2 separate regions of the Homo sapiens genome follow, and region 1 is reported to be linked to region 2. Evidence: microRNA targets listed by miRTarBase, many of them from high-throughput screens and not tested one by one. Region 2 holds a microRNA gene; the other region holds the end of a gene's coding sequence.
The links. Region 2 holds the annotated microRNA hsa-miR-4795-3p (AUAUUAUUAGCCACUUCUGGAU, at 4,682-4,703, shown strand). A microRNA usually pairs through its seed, bases 2 to 8, with sites in the 3' UTR of a target mRNA and lowers its output. Matches are read on the target gene's strand: a 7mer-m8 pairs with bases 2 to 8, a 7mer-A1 pairs with bases 2 to 7 and ends in A, and an 8mer does both.

Region 1: miRTarBase lists CREBZF as a target of hsa-miR-4795-3p. Seed matches in the 3' UTR shown: 7mer-A1 at 4,478-4,484 and 7mer-A1 at 2,265-2,271.

The regions. Positions count from the first base shown.
Region 1 is chr11:85,657,296-85,664,420 of GRCh38, forward strand. CREBZF (CREB/ATF bZIP transcription factor) reads right to left here. Exons shown (of 1, transcript NM_001039618.4): 1 at 695-7,125. The coding sequence ends at 6,516. Among named protein-coding and RNA genes, the nearest start is that of CREBZF, 4.3 kb to the right of the region's middle. RefSeq lists enhancers at 6,458-6,697, 6,808-7,097.
Region 2 is chr3:87,223,800-87,230,901 of GRCh38, reverse strand. It overlaps MIR4795 (microRNA 4795), which reads left to right and starts at 4,625; the gene lies at 4,625-4,713. It overlaps CHMP2B (charged multivesicular body protein 2B), which reads right to left and starts at 3,593. Exons shown (of 6, transcript NM_014043.4): 1 at 3,346-3,593. The coding sequence starts at 3,379. RefSeq lists enhancers at 3,382-3,501, 3,572-3,641, 3,692-3,741, 3,832-3,891, 4,002-4,141.

The sequences.
Region 1 (7,125 bases), not on the chromosome of region 2:
ATATGTTAGCCACTAGCCTATGTAGCGGCTGGGCACCTGAAATGTGGCAAGTGCAATTGAGTAACTGAATTTTTACTTTTAAACCATTTAAAATGTTTAGCCACGTGACTAATGCTTACAGTATTGGACAGCGTAGATCTAAACCAACACTTATGAAGCAAGCCAATCATCACAGAAAAGTACCAAACAAAATTTTAAGTGGCATCCAAGATTATTCATGAATCTCTTAATTATTACTTCCAAATAGTGACATATCTGTTAAGTCATCTTATGCTACTTAAAATTATAATTTAGAAAAGGCATCTTTGTGAGTGAAACTGGCCTTTAGCTTCTGTTTAAAGAAAAACATAAAGCTGTGCTGCCAAAGATGAAAAACTCATGTGAAATTAATAAAATACAATCTCAATTTTTCAGAAAGCAAAGATGATTTGTTCTTTCAACAGGCACATAAAATATATTATCTACCAAACTTATATAAAAAATGATCCCAGTTATGAGGCAAAAGAATCTATGTGCACAAGAGACTGAAAGGAAGCATGCCAAAATGTTTACTGTGGATATTCTATGGCTTATAGAGTTATAAGGGTGATTTTTCTTTTCTTCTTGATTCCTTTCAGGATATTCCAAGTTTTCTATAAAGAATATGCTTTACTTTTACAACTAGGGAAAGAAAGACAGAAAAATATATATAACATTTAAAGGGCAAAACAATATAGCTGTTTATTTTACAGGCTAAAATATCAAGATGAAAAGCTCTGATCCCAAATCATCCATTTTACCTATATTCTGTCACTTTTACTAAAAGCAGAGTTCTACTCATCCCAGTGAAAAAAACAATGAATTAAAAGTAATTTCTGGCGTTAACCCAAGTACCGAGTTAAGACTCCTTAAGAATATAGAATTATGTAATCAACTTAGATAATTCAAAGCCCAATGATATAACTAAGTTCTTTGACGATTGAGCACACATTGTTTCCTTACTTATCTTTAAACATTCCTAGTCCAATTACTCCCTAGCATAATACCATTTATAAATGAGGATGAGTTTACAATGGTTTCTGTAACCAAAAAGTATTTCTAATATCTGTCCTCTGCCACATATTTTTAAATTATCTTTTCCATTAGCAGAAATGGGCAACATAAGCAATAAATCATGTTAAGTCTGTTGCTACAAATTTACTTTGCCAAAATTTTTGTTCAGAGGGCAGATATCTGCATTATTTAAGGACATTTAGTCATTTGTAGCTAACACCTGAAGTAAACTACCCTCAATCAATTTTTATATTTCAGTCTAGTCACTGTAGACAAACTATTTAAATCTTTTATAATTTACTTTGTGTAGTTATTTGGCTTAAAAAAAAAAAAAGAGGGCTCACATTCTATTTAAATTAAGACAATATATTTTATAAAGCCCAAATTATAGTACACTAAGAGCCAGAGGGGTCTAGGGAATTGATCTCAGTGGGTATACAGCAAAGACAAAATTTGGAGGCAGACGCTAAAGGAAGTTGAGATAAATAAAATTCAAATCAGTGTATTAACAGAACTACACAAATGTTTACAACACAGTAACTACACTTTTCAATTAGTTCATTGTGAAAACTGAGCAAAATATTTTCAACAATTTTGGGTCAACAAAAAGTATGGAATATTTTAAGACAATAAAGAGTGACTGGTGTTGAGAGTACTGAGGCTACACAGAGGTACTGAAATTCAAATCTGAAAAATACTGTGCTGGCCACACAACACTACAAATTTCTAATGGAAGAATTCCCTTTTTGATCCGCAGCTTAGGTGGTAAGTAAATAAAAAAACAGCTCAGAAAAACAGCAAAAATATTAACATTTAGGAGTCTCAAAACTTTGTATTGGCTGTGAGTCTGGGGGAAAAAAACATAAATGTCATACTACCAATTAAACTTTCAAGAGTCATCAGATTATTTAGCTTTAAAATTTTACTAAATCAGACCTTAAACTACACATTCAAAATGCTGAACTAGATAATCACATATTAAAAAGGTAATGACTCATTATCAGTGAATTACCCAGTCTGTTCTATCAAAGTAGTAGTTAAGGTCACCAAATAATGTTGGTGCCTTTGGTTCTGGAATTATAACTAGCTGTACTGTAGGAGCATCAGCGCCTAAGTTTTAAGCCAGTGGGAATACTCTGCTGCCTGGCTTCACAGGCACTGAATACACTTAAAATGGTAAGAAACTGAATGGATTTAATAAGTTTTGAATAATACAATAACCAACTGTATATTTATTATGAAGTAAAAGCCAATCTCCTACCCAATCCCTCTTCTATCAGCTGCACATTTCCAAGTAAGTGAGATAAAATGACTCAATCTAAACCACGTGAAGGAATGTATTAACATAATCCAACAAAAATGAAATAAAACAATCCAGAGTTTTGAGTGTTTTTTCACACTTGTAATAAACTGAAAAAATATTTCAATTAAAACAACCATATGCCACAAAAAGCCACTCCCATCATCCACAATACTAAAGTCCTTATACAACACTAGATAAATTTTTATATAAAACAGTAGAAACTAGCATACCATTAATTAGAAACCTCAAAATATTCAGAAAACAGTATCAAGTACTCAAGAGAAAGCTCAAGAAGCCAAAACCTCAAGAATCCATACATCCTGGTTGTTACCCTAAATTGTAATTAACTACCCACACATTTAATCATAATCAACTTTTTCAAAGATATACAAATCAATGCATCTATTTAAAAGGACTACTCTTTATAGTTCAGAACTTTACATTAACTTTTATATTCTACTCAGCAGGGTGTCTGTCTGTACTCCAAATTAGCTCTCATGTTCCAGGAAATAAATACAAACTCATATGCCTTGTGATCACTGATGGCCTGCTTATGTAATTCTAGTCCACTAAATGTTAATTCCATAGAATATGCTCTTGATTATGTAAAAACTCTAATTTCTTGATGAAATACTGTAATTCTCCAAAGGTTACAATTTTGTAAAGATATGCAATAACTGAGTATCACTCCCATGAAAGACAAAAAAAGTATAATTTTGTTCCAAGATTAACTTAGTCTCATGTATCTCTATTAAGTCTTTCAAGGATTCCAGAGAATCTTTTCATATCTCCATTTCTGGAAAGTGAAATCAGTATAGAAGTAATTTGGGAACTTGAAAATGGCATTCATTTTTTTCAGCAGATGCCAAATTTTTGACCGACATGGTTCTCACAATTACTTTGTTACCAACAGTCCAGTCAGTTAACAGGTTGTAGGAAAAGATTCGTTTTTGCAGACACTGCTAAGCTGTTCAAAGAGAAGAGAGAGAGATTAATTTAGTGATTATAAAATGCACAAATATTTAAAATATTTTGAACACTTCTTGTTGGATTATATCAGAGGTGTGACTACATTTTAACAAAAGTGGACTTTTTAAGATAAGTCTGGTCAAAGAAGTGCAGAAACAGTAAGTCAATATGATAGAAATAGTAGGTCAAAATATGATGTGTTAGTTCAATTAATGTATGAACTCCTGCCACCATCAAAAGACAAATATTAAAAAGCTACATCTTTAGTCTAGTTCTGTATTTTACCAGAGGCACATTTAGAAGAAAAACAAAAGGGTCACCCAAATACTAAATTGTTTTCAACCATTACAGTAAATAGAGCCAAACCTAGAAATTTCAAAAACAATCCATTTTATATTCCAGAAATCTCCTTTATCCATGTGCTAATCATCCAGAACACAATTTTCTAAAAATAGTAAGACAACAGTTTCACATTAATCATAACTTTTTTAATTAACAAGTAGTGAATCGGACACTTTAAGATATTGTTTACTACATACTGAAATAAACAGATCTGTTTAAATTCAGAAACCCAAACATTTACAGTAAAATGTGCTTACACATAAATATGACCAAATTTATTTAAAGCCCCTATTAGATAGATCCTAAGTACATGCAATTACCATGTAAAAACAAGACCATGAAGTTGATGTAAAAAATGACAAAATCACTAAGTCACCAAAACTAGAAAAAAAAAAATGAAATGGAAACTGAGAAAAGACAGTTAATAAAACATAAGGAACCTAACAAAGCAGCTTTAAAAATAGGCCATACTAATCCTTCCATTTTCAAAAGTTCTTATCAAGTAATTCCAAAAACTGCCATTTATAAAATGACATTCTAAAAATCTACACTTGGAATTTCAAAGTATCTCAATTCAGAAAGCTTTGACTACTGTTTCTCCCCAGCCCACAATTTCAAATAATGCAGGAAAAGTATTGACGTAAGGAAGAAAATACTCCAACAGAATGTTATAGTTTTTAGAAAAATGAACTTACTGCTTTCCAGAACCTTTTAAGACCCACAGTCAGCATTAACAATCATTTTTCCTATTTTCATCCATTATTTTCCAATATCATGTTAGAGATGAATAAATTCTTTGAGCCCATAACTAAAAGATCAACAAACCTGGTTTTATTATGACACCATATTTTTGTCATTGGTACTGCACAAAATTATATACAAAGAAATATATACAAAATGTTCAAGTATTAGTTAAATTTCAATTCAAGGCTTCTGTTTCAAAAAAGCTACATTTAACATATTTCATAAAGATAGCACAAATTAGTCATTTCAAATAATCTTTCCAACTACTTTTGGTTTATATATATATATATATATGTATATATATATATAATTCAGTAGGCACTAAAAACCCATGCAGCTGCATTGTGAGGGGCTTGCTCCTGCCCTTAGGTATAAGCAGGTTCATCACTCCAATTTGTGAGTTTGGCTACTACCCATTCATGCTCAAGTGCAGTAGTAGATGATTTTACAAAATATGCTGTGATGCACTGGAAACCAAAGACCAATTCAGGTCTCAAATCGTATTATCTAGCAACAAAACATTTACAGTTGTGCAAGAACAAGGATTCCATTTTCATAACCAAATAACAAAATAAAACATTTTATGTGTAAGATAACTTACATCTTTGGACTGCTGGAAAATACTTTTTAATTATGAACATGTTAAAAATAAAAAACAGCAGAAGCCCTGATATTACCTCTTTTTCCTCATTTCTTATACTACCTTTTAAAATAAAGCAGGAAATGTGGCCAGCAGCTGGTCCCGTCTCTTCTGCCCCAACAGCTGTATCCACTTTAGCACAAAGAAAAACAAGGATGCTAAATACGTATATACTTTATCAAGCAGTGATGTTTCACAAAGAATTTCTTAATGCCTCTTACACTGAAGGACACCATAATTCAATTTATACAACTGGTTAATAGATTCAAGGGAATAAATCCCACCTTAGGAAAATAGTACCAATCGTGTCATTTAAGTGGCCAGAACCACTCAATTTAAAAAATTATTTTAAAATAGGACAAATACTTTTGAAACACAGAGAATAAGATTCTTTGTGAAGCCTCACTTTACACGTTTTCATTCACATTTCACAACCTTCAATATCTAATCATACATATATAAATTTAACCTAAAATTTTAATACAACAAAAATAAAGATGTTCAACAATTTATTCAATCTCAGTGATAGGGTAATCACTGCTGGTCCTCAAAGAAACATTAGCCATTCTTATTCTCCAATTAACTAAAACGCAGGAGTCTCATATGTATGTTAATTTCCAACTTCTCTAATGGTGAGACATTAAAATGTTACTCCATTATAGACTGTTTCTATATCTCATACTGAAAACTAAAAGGCATTGTTGATATTTAAGAGATACCTGTCACCTCCAGCAAAATAACTATCACATTTGTGCATGCCCCAAATACTTAACTGTCAACCTCTGAAAAGTTGCCCTAAAATCGGAATTCCAATTTGCACCTTGTACAACTCGGAACTTCCATTCAACTTCACCTGTTTCACTGTCTCCAAACTGTCTCTCTATAAGCAGGTTTCAGTGTACAGTTGGAACCGATGTCATCCAAGGCCATGTCCACACTGGGGACAGAAGAGCTAGGTACACGCAAGTCTGAATAAGGGGACACATTAATAGCTATTTCAACCAGAAGAGGCATCTTAAATACATTCTTGACCAGCACAAGTCTGTTTCCAGGGTGGACAGGGCCCAAATTAGATTTCCCTCCCACCTTCCAAAACAGAAAAAAAAAAAAAAATCACACACACACAAACTGAGATGTTGCCCATTAAAGTAGACAAAGCAGCAGAGCATGAGCGTTACGGGAAGAGATGGATCCTTACCAGGTTGTGAGGCGGGAACGACTGTTCTGTAACCCCTACAACGGAGCCTGGCAGGAAGGAAATCACCTAAAAAAGAAACTGTCAGAGAGATTTAATAGTCACATGTTATCATTAGGAGTTGGTTACTGTGTCACATTCATGCTTTTAGCTAAACACTTTAAGATTCAATATTACTTTTTTTCTCTCCTCTGAAATGTGTCCGGTGAAGATGTCCCACTAAGGTAAGTTTGACATGGTGTAAGGGAGTTGAAAGGGGTAAACGCGGATAAAGAGCAGATTACTTGACCCTACATTTTAAGAGAAGACGACGCCTTCCGGGCGCACGCCGAGCAGAACTCCACCGACACCTTATCCTTGTCCACATGGAGACAGACTCCTCCCGCCGAGTCGTCCTCTTCCAGCAGGTCCTGCTTCTGCTTTCCCACCGGCAGAGCGTAGTCGTGGTCACCGGCGGGCGAGTCTCTGAAGAGCGAGGTGGTCAGCCGCAGTCCCACGCCGCTCAGCCGGCTCAGCAAGCGAGCCAGTCCAGTCTCGTTGGCTAAGACTGCCCGTAGGTAGCGACTCTCCTCCTGCAGTGCCTGTACGCGTTTGCCCAGCTCCCGATTCTCGGCCCGCAGCTCCTGGTTCTCGGCTGCCAGACCCCGGACTCGACTCTCCAGCCCCATCACGTACTCCTTCTTCTTCAGTCGATTAAGGCGGGCAGCGGCCGCCGCCGCCTTCCGGGGACTCTTTGTCGCCGCCTGGTTGTTGTCGTTACCGCTGCCGCCACCGCCGCCTCCTCCTGGGGACTTTCTCCGCCTCTTTTCGGCGCTGCCACTGTCACTGCTGCTGCTGCAGCCTCCGATACCGTTTAACAGCCTTTGCAGCAGGTCAGAGAAGCGCTGCATTTCAGCAGCC
Region 2 (7,102 bases):
ATAAATTAATTATCAGGATCAAATGCAAAACATAGGCCCAAGAGATGTTCACTAATAATGGCCATTAGATTTGACAATCTAGAAGTTACTGATGATCTAAGCAACATCTCATTGCATGCCATGCAAGGCAAACTGCTGTAAGGTGGGGGAGGCAGTCTGTTAAGTAAAGAAGTGGAGATAAGACATCACTACTCCTTCAAAAGGTTTAGATGAAAAGCAAAAAGAAACTGGCCATACTTTCGAAGAAATGCTGTGTCCAGGGAGAGTCAGGAGTGGGTTATTTCCAGTTCCACCACCATTAGAAAGTAAAGTTCTACCACTAATTCCGAAAGAAAAGTCTGGTTCCAGAAAGAATGTAAACGTTGCATGGTATCTACCAAAAGTTGAGAATTCCATGTGCTTGATAAGAGCAAAATTAAACTGTGTCATGTATCAATCTCTAATAAGAAAAAAGTAATAATAATACTCAAAGGGATGAGGTCCTAGTTCTGACACTTAATAGCTGTATGATCTTGAACACACGACTTAGTCCTTTGCTTTTCTCATTTTATAAGGATGTTATATGAGTACTTATATGTTTTATGAGAAATAAGACATGGCATGCACAATGCTTAGCACAGTGTTGGCTTAGTCAAATTTGTCTTTACTGAGGTTAACAGACAAAAATTATATAGTGTTTAAAGAACTTCACTTTTAAGCATGTTTAGTTGTGCATTTGTGACAAGTCCTAGTGGGATCCTGATTTACAGGTTCATAATTAGCTTCCCTAAATAGGTCACTATTAATCTACAAAGGGGGAAAATAAACACTGTAGGTAAACATAACACACTATATATATGTATATCCTTACACAGGTAAAAGAAAAACCAAGTAGTACTCAACTGTAATTTCAAATTCCAAAGAATCCTTCCCTTCTCTTGAGGTATACCTCTCATTAATTTCTACAGCAAAGTATACACCGCAGAGACTTGTTCATCTTTGTGTCAAAATGAATTAAACATAACTCTGAATAGTAATAAGTGCTGTAATGTTGTCTTCCTTTTAAATTTACATGTGCAGTAGTCTTTAATGATACAGTATATAACTCTTCCAGCCAATCCAAACAGGAAAAAAGATTCAATTATTCCCCAGATCTATAGGCAGGTACATGTTTCCCTTATATATCAGAATTTCATTACTGCTGGAACAGATTTAAAAGTCAGCATACAATAAAAGAGCTCATGATCAATCCAACGATCTGAGAGACATAAAAATACATTAAACTTCATATTCATAATATACAGCCTCATTACCAAGAAGAATGCTGTCACCTTTTAGACAAAACAAAAAAAAACTTCCTTTCAATAAAACAGGGAATAAAAAAAGTAAAGCTCTATATCAAAATAACGAAAATACAGATCTATTTATTAAGATGTCAGTAAATGACTGGAATTGACACAATAATATAAGAAAACATCAAGTATGCATCTTGGTAGTTTATAGTAAATGTACCTGCTGGCCAAATTTACATTTGGAAATTGCACATATGGTTAATTTAGTGGCATAGTTCCTAGCAAGAGTCCTTAAGACTCTTTTACAAATAAGTCTATTCAGCAAAAACATTATTTCTTGGAAGAATTAACTGCAAATGAGTATACAGTTAAACACTCATTGCACATCCCCATTGTCTTTTTTTCTCTCCTCTACACTTCAAGTACAATAGTCACTAAATTTCCAAAAGCACCAGGAAGCACAGAACTGAGATTTATGTCTTTGAAAATATTTGACAGGTATTAGGCGATTAAAACTAGTATGCTTGGCTTTTATTGTTAAAAAAAAATTAACTCTAATTGTAACATCACAGTAAAGGAGATGAAACCATTTTTTCTCCATTTAGTAAATTCTCACTATATAAAACTAAACAACAAAAAAAAACTGTAACTATATAAAACTCAAGCAAAAAGAAAATAAATCGTTCCCCCACCCCCACTCCCTGGAGTACTGTAAAATAAGTGAAGCTCACAACAGTGGCAGCTAAAACACTGAAAAAATAAAGTGCCATATTAAAGATTAAGCAGCATTCTCATGAAAAGCACACATAAAATCCATTTCACATCACTGTATCACCTAATATACGAAGTTGGTAGTTATTCCAGGTATTGCAAATGGTACTTAATAAAAAGTCAATAAATCAAAAAAATGTTCAGTCACCCAGAGTAAGGAAAAATGTATTATGTCATCTGATAAATTAGAGGTAAAGTAGATTATGTGTTGAAATGAAGTGTACAGCAGCAGAGCAGAGATGACTTCTTTGTTATCCTCCCCAAAATAATTTTGCTGGCATTGGAATAGTCAACACAAAGGAATGAAGGAGTTACGTCCAGGTCTGGACTGAGCACCCTATTTGTACCAATCACTGTCTAGCTACCACTGCTCCTTTTGTGGCAGAATTAGACCCTTACAAAGAAGTGATTCTTTGGTTGAACCAGCAACAACCTAGACTAAACATATAATGGGGAACACAATTTTTAAATAACTTGAATGAATTTAATTCCTGGTAGCAATCAATGAAAACATCAAGTGTTATATAAACACATTATAGGCATCGCATATGAGCACCATAAAACTTGTACATTCCTTTACATTCACTTTTTTCCCCGCTTAAGATGATATTAAGCTAAATGCGGGAAACAACACAATTATCTTTACATGTTAAACTTCTATGAAGACAATATATACCCCATCTCTTTCTTTAGTTGGCAAAAAATAATCATAAGGGAGAAAAATCCATTATGAAAACTAAATCTGGGCACTTCCCTTGGGTTTATTTTTCTACTGGGGTTAATCAAAAAAGCATTTGTTTCACATCTCTTTACTGATGGGGTGTTCTTAAAGAAGCAACTGACCCAGACCCAACTTCATTTCCTAACTGGAGCCTGTTATCCCCTCCCTCCCCATTCCGAGACTGCCAGTTTCCTGTATGGATGCCTACAAGTAGTATATCGCCCAACTGAAGAGCAACAATCGAAGCAGAGGAAACCAACAAGAAATCCATCAGATTTCCAAGTTTATTGACACTCAAGGGCCAGCTAGCCTCCTCGAAACGCTCAGGATCCTGCTGAGGAAAACCCGAGGGTGGGGGAATCGTGAGGATAGGGAAGCAACCAGACTGCCTAGGTGAGCCTAAGGTGAGGTGAGTCAGAAGCAAGAGGGAGGCAGAGAAGTGGTGCCGCGAGGGCGGTCACCTGTGGGACCACTTGATCCAGCCCCGCCTCCAGGGACAGTAGGCAGAATCGCGGCCAGCAGGCCTCGAAAGACGCCGAGAAAACGCAGAGCTGGGCCCCTTCAGCCCGGCCTGGAACTCACCATCCACGGTTTTCTTCTTGAAGAGGGACGCCATGGTTAAAGACTGCGCCCGGGCGGCCCGGCTCGGCCCGGTCCGGCCCAACGCTGGCAAAGGACAGGAGGAAAAGGACAGGACCTTGGCGGGTTCGGGGTGGCGGAGCGGAGAGACAGCAGGAGGAGGTCGGGGTCGCCAGGCAGGACCCGCGGAAGGCTTGTATCCGCAGCTACCGCAGCCGCGTCACCCGGAGCTCAGGTGACCGGGAACTAACACACTTTTTGGAGAAGTCACTTCTAGGCGGCGCCTGCGCGTTGTGTGGCGCCTGCGCACTACGGAGTTTGAAGCCGCGGCCGCTTTCCTCACGTCTGCGGCTGCCAGTTCCTCCTGCACCGGGAGTTGGCAGCGGGGCGAGTCTGGAGCTGGCGGGGATAGGAGAGCGTGGGGCCACGGCTTCTGTGCGCGGGTTGGGTGATGATTGAGGACAGTGATCAGCCTTGCTTAGCGCTTCACCCCTTGCCCCGGGGAAAGCTGGATGAGGGATCTCCGGGCTCCTAGACTAAGTGTGGGTTGTCCCGGAACCGCCTGTACCCACTCCGAGTTGATTTATTACGGTCCCATTGCTGTTAGTATTTTTGTTGTTGTTGTTGTTGTTGTTTGTTTGTTTTTACTCGAGTAATCCAGGAACTGGCGGAAACGTTGAGTTCCGTACCCGGTGATTGTTGGCCCCTGGAGTTCGCGGTCCTTTCGGCACTGACTGACTCGGCGACCTCCCCCGCACCGCGCAGACCCCTGCAGGACCCTAGCCGCTCACCTGCCGCCCCCGGCTCCAGACTCCGACGACCCAGCGTGGGTCTCCGGGGATCCAGTGTCTAGAGTTGGGGGGGTCTCGAGGACGAAGGGAAGTTTTTTAATGCTACACTTTTTGTTTAAGGTTCTTGCCTGGAAACATTAAAACACACACACACACACACACACACACACACACACACAAATTTGTAGGCTGGTCTAAATGTCTCCAGCTCTATTTCTTAATTTCTTGTAAATCATGAATCATAAAGTGTCATGGCTATACGGTGATCCTATTAGAATTCCTCACAGCCGTTTATTTGGGCTTTTTGTGAAAAACTGCATATCATGTTAAAGAAAAAATGTAATGAATTATTTAAAGAATCCTTGCATGTATAAAATGGAAAATACAACCTATGCGTGCGTACCTGTATATAGTCTCTACTGTTTAAAGCAACACTGCCTTCCACAGGATAAAAATAATGGTAGCATTTTTTTTTTCATAAATATTATCTCTGATATGGAAGAAATCCAGAAGTGGCTAATAATATTGACACTATAACAATAATGTCAATATTATTAGCCACTTCTGGATTTATGAATCATGTCTCAAGGATTATTATTTATGATAATCAGGCCAGCCTTTCCCATTTTTCCCCTCCTGAGATATCCAAGCCCTCATAGCCACTGATAATGCTGCTGCTGCTGCTAAAAGTTAGCTGAGAGTCTGTTCAAGAAAACTTTCTTAAGAATGACGTAGTAATATGCAAGATATAATTGTTTTGCTTCTCCTCAAGTTATTCTCGATATGGGAAGATGAAGTAAGGAAACATTAGGAAGACATGTAAGTGAGAAGATTTAGTCTCTGCACTCAAGACCGGGCCTTTTCTGGAGTGAGCTCTATGGCAGTTTGCCCTGGCTGTCTGTTGTAATGAATGGCATAGAGCTGTGCTTGAACGCATGAGAGGCAATAAGCTGTTATGTGTGTAGTAATCGTACTCCTCCCTGCTGCAGTCACCCTTGTTTTATTACTCCTATACAATCCCCCCCACTGACCCAATTGTAACAGTTGGGAAAATGCCAAAATACTTAGGAGCAACCATATGGAAGACCCTCCAAAAGTGCACAGCAGGAGCTAAAGACAGGGCTTGTTCATTACAATAAAGACAAAATAGAAATATTTACTATTTAAACTCAGTACTCTAATAGCTTGTTCTCCCATAGTTTGAAGAAGGCTGATATTCAGCTGATTGCACCAGTCTAGCTAGAGTCCATTCTGATTAGTTGGTGGCCACATTTCTCCTGTACACATTTTGTATTATTATATCGCTCCTTATTTAAAGGGCATGATACACTTAAATATATGTTGTTTTCTGGAGTATTTCATAACATAGTTTCCTCCTCTGAAACTGAAATATTTGCCATTTTTTCATCTTTGGGTACCTCGGGTTATAATTTGAATGGGTGCATTCTTCTCCTTGTTCAGCTTTTGAAGAAAGATAGCATAACATTGGAGAGTGCTGATTCTGGACACAGACTGCCCAGTTCTGTGACCAATTCTGTGACTTTTAAGTTTTAAGACCTAGGCCAGTTCACTGAAGCTCTCCGTGTTTCTTTCATCACATATGTGATAGAGATAACATTAGCCCACCTTTCATATATTAGGTTGGTACAAAAGTAATTGGCGAAAACCACAGTTACTTTTGCACCAACCTAATAGCTGTTGCAAGGATTAAATGAGTTAATATGTTAAACATTCAAAGTAGTGCTTGGCACGTAATGTCTTAGCCCCTCTGTGCAGCTACAACAAAATACCACAGACTGGGTAATTTATAAACAGTAGAAATTTATTTCTCACATTTGTGGAGGCTGGGGAGTCCAAGATCAAGGAACCCAGAGGTTTTGTTTCTGGTGAGAGCTGCTTTCTGCTTCCATGATGGTACCTTGCTGTTGCATCCTCAAGAAGAAAGAGATGCTGTATCCTCACATGGCAAGAAGGACAGAAGGGTAAAAGGGCGGTAGGCAGCTCCCTCACACCTGTTTTATAAAGGAACTAATCTCATTCATGAGGGCTCCACCCTCATGACTTAATCACATCCTAAAGTTCCCACCTCTAAAAACTATCACATTAGTGATTAAGTTTCAACATATGAATTTTTGGGGGGTACATTCACACCATATCACATAATAATCATTTTTGTATTATCTGTATTGTTGTTTCCAGCTGTTTTACCTTTTTATGCTTTCTCAAGTAATCTTCATGCTGAAATTCTCTTCTCTGTAGTACAGAAAACACAAATTGAAGATTTAGGCTTTCTGATGCTGATCTTGGTTACCTTCACCTTAACAGCCACCACCTCCCCAAATTAGCCCATTTCTTTCTCCTTAATAAAAAAATGGTTTTATTCTCAGCAAACTAACACAGGAACAGAAAACCAAACACTGCATATTCTCACTCATAAGTGGGGGTTGAGCAGTGAGAACACATGGACACAGGGAGGGGAACATCACATGCCAGGGCCTGTCAGGGGGTGGGGGGAAAGGGGAGGGAGAGCATTAGGACAAATACCTAATGCATGTGGGGCTTAAAACCTAGATGATGGGTTGATGGGTGCAGCAAACCACCATGGCACATGAAGACCTATGTAACCAACGTGCACGTTCTGTACATGTATCCCAGAACTTAAAGTAAAATAAACAAATAAATAATAAGATAATGGTTTTCTTGTTCTTAAATCTGTTATTTGTGTAGGAATTGACTTGTTATAGAAATATGTATCTAACATTGGTACTGGAAGGATTCGGTGCAGATTTGTTTCTGTTTGTCTTTTCTCCTCAGCTTCAATTTTAAACTCCTTGGGTTCAGAGAGAATCTCTTGTCAGGCCCTTCAATAATTTTCCTACTAGAATGTAAATATATTTAATAGAAACTTAATATGCAATCGTATTTTCATATTATCCATGTTTCAATGTTTTAACGCCAAATGACAAGTA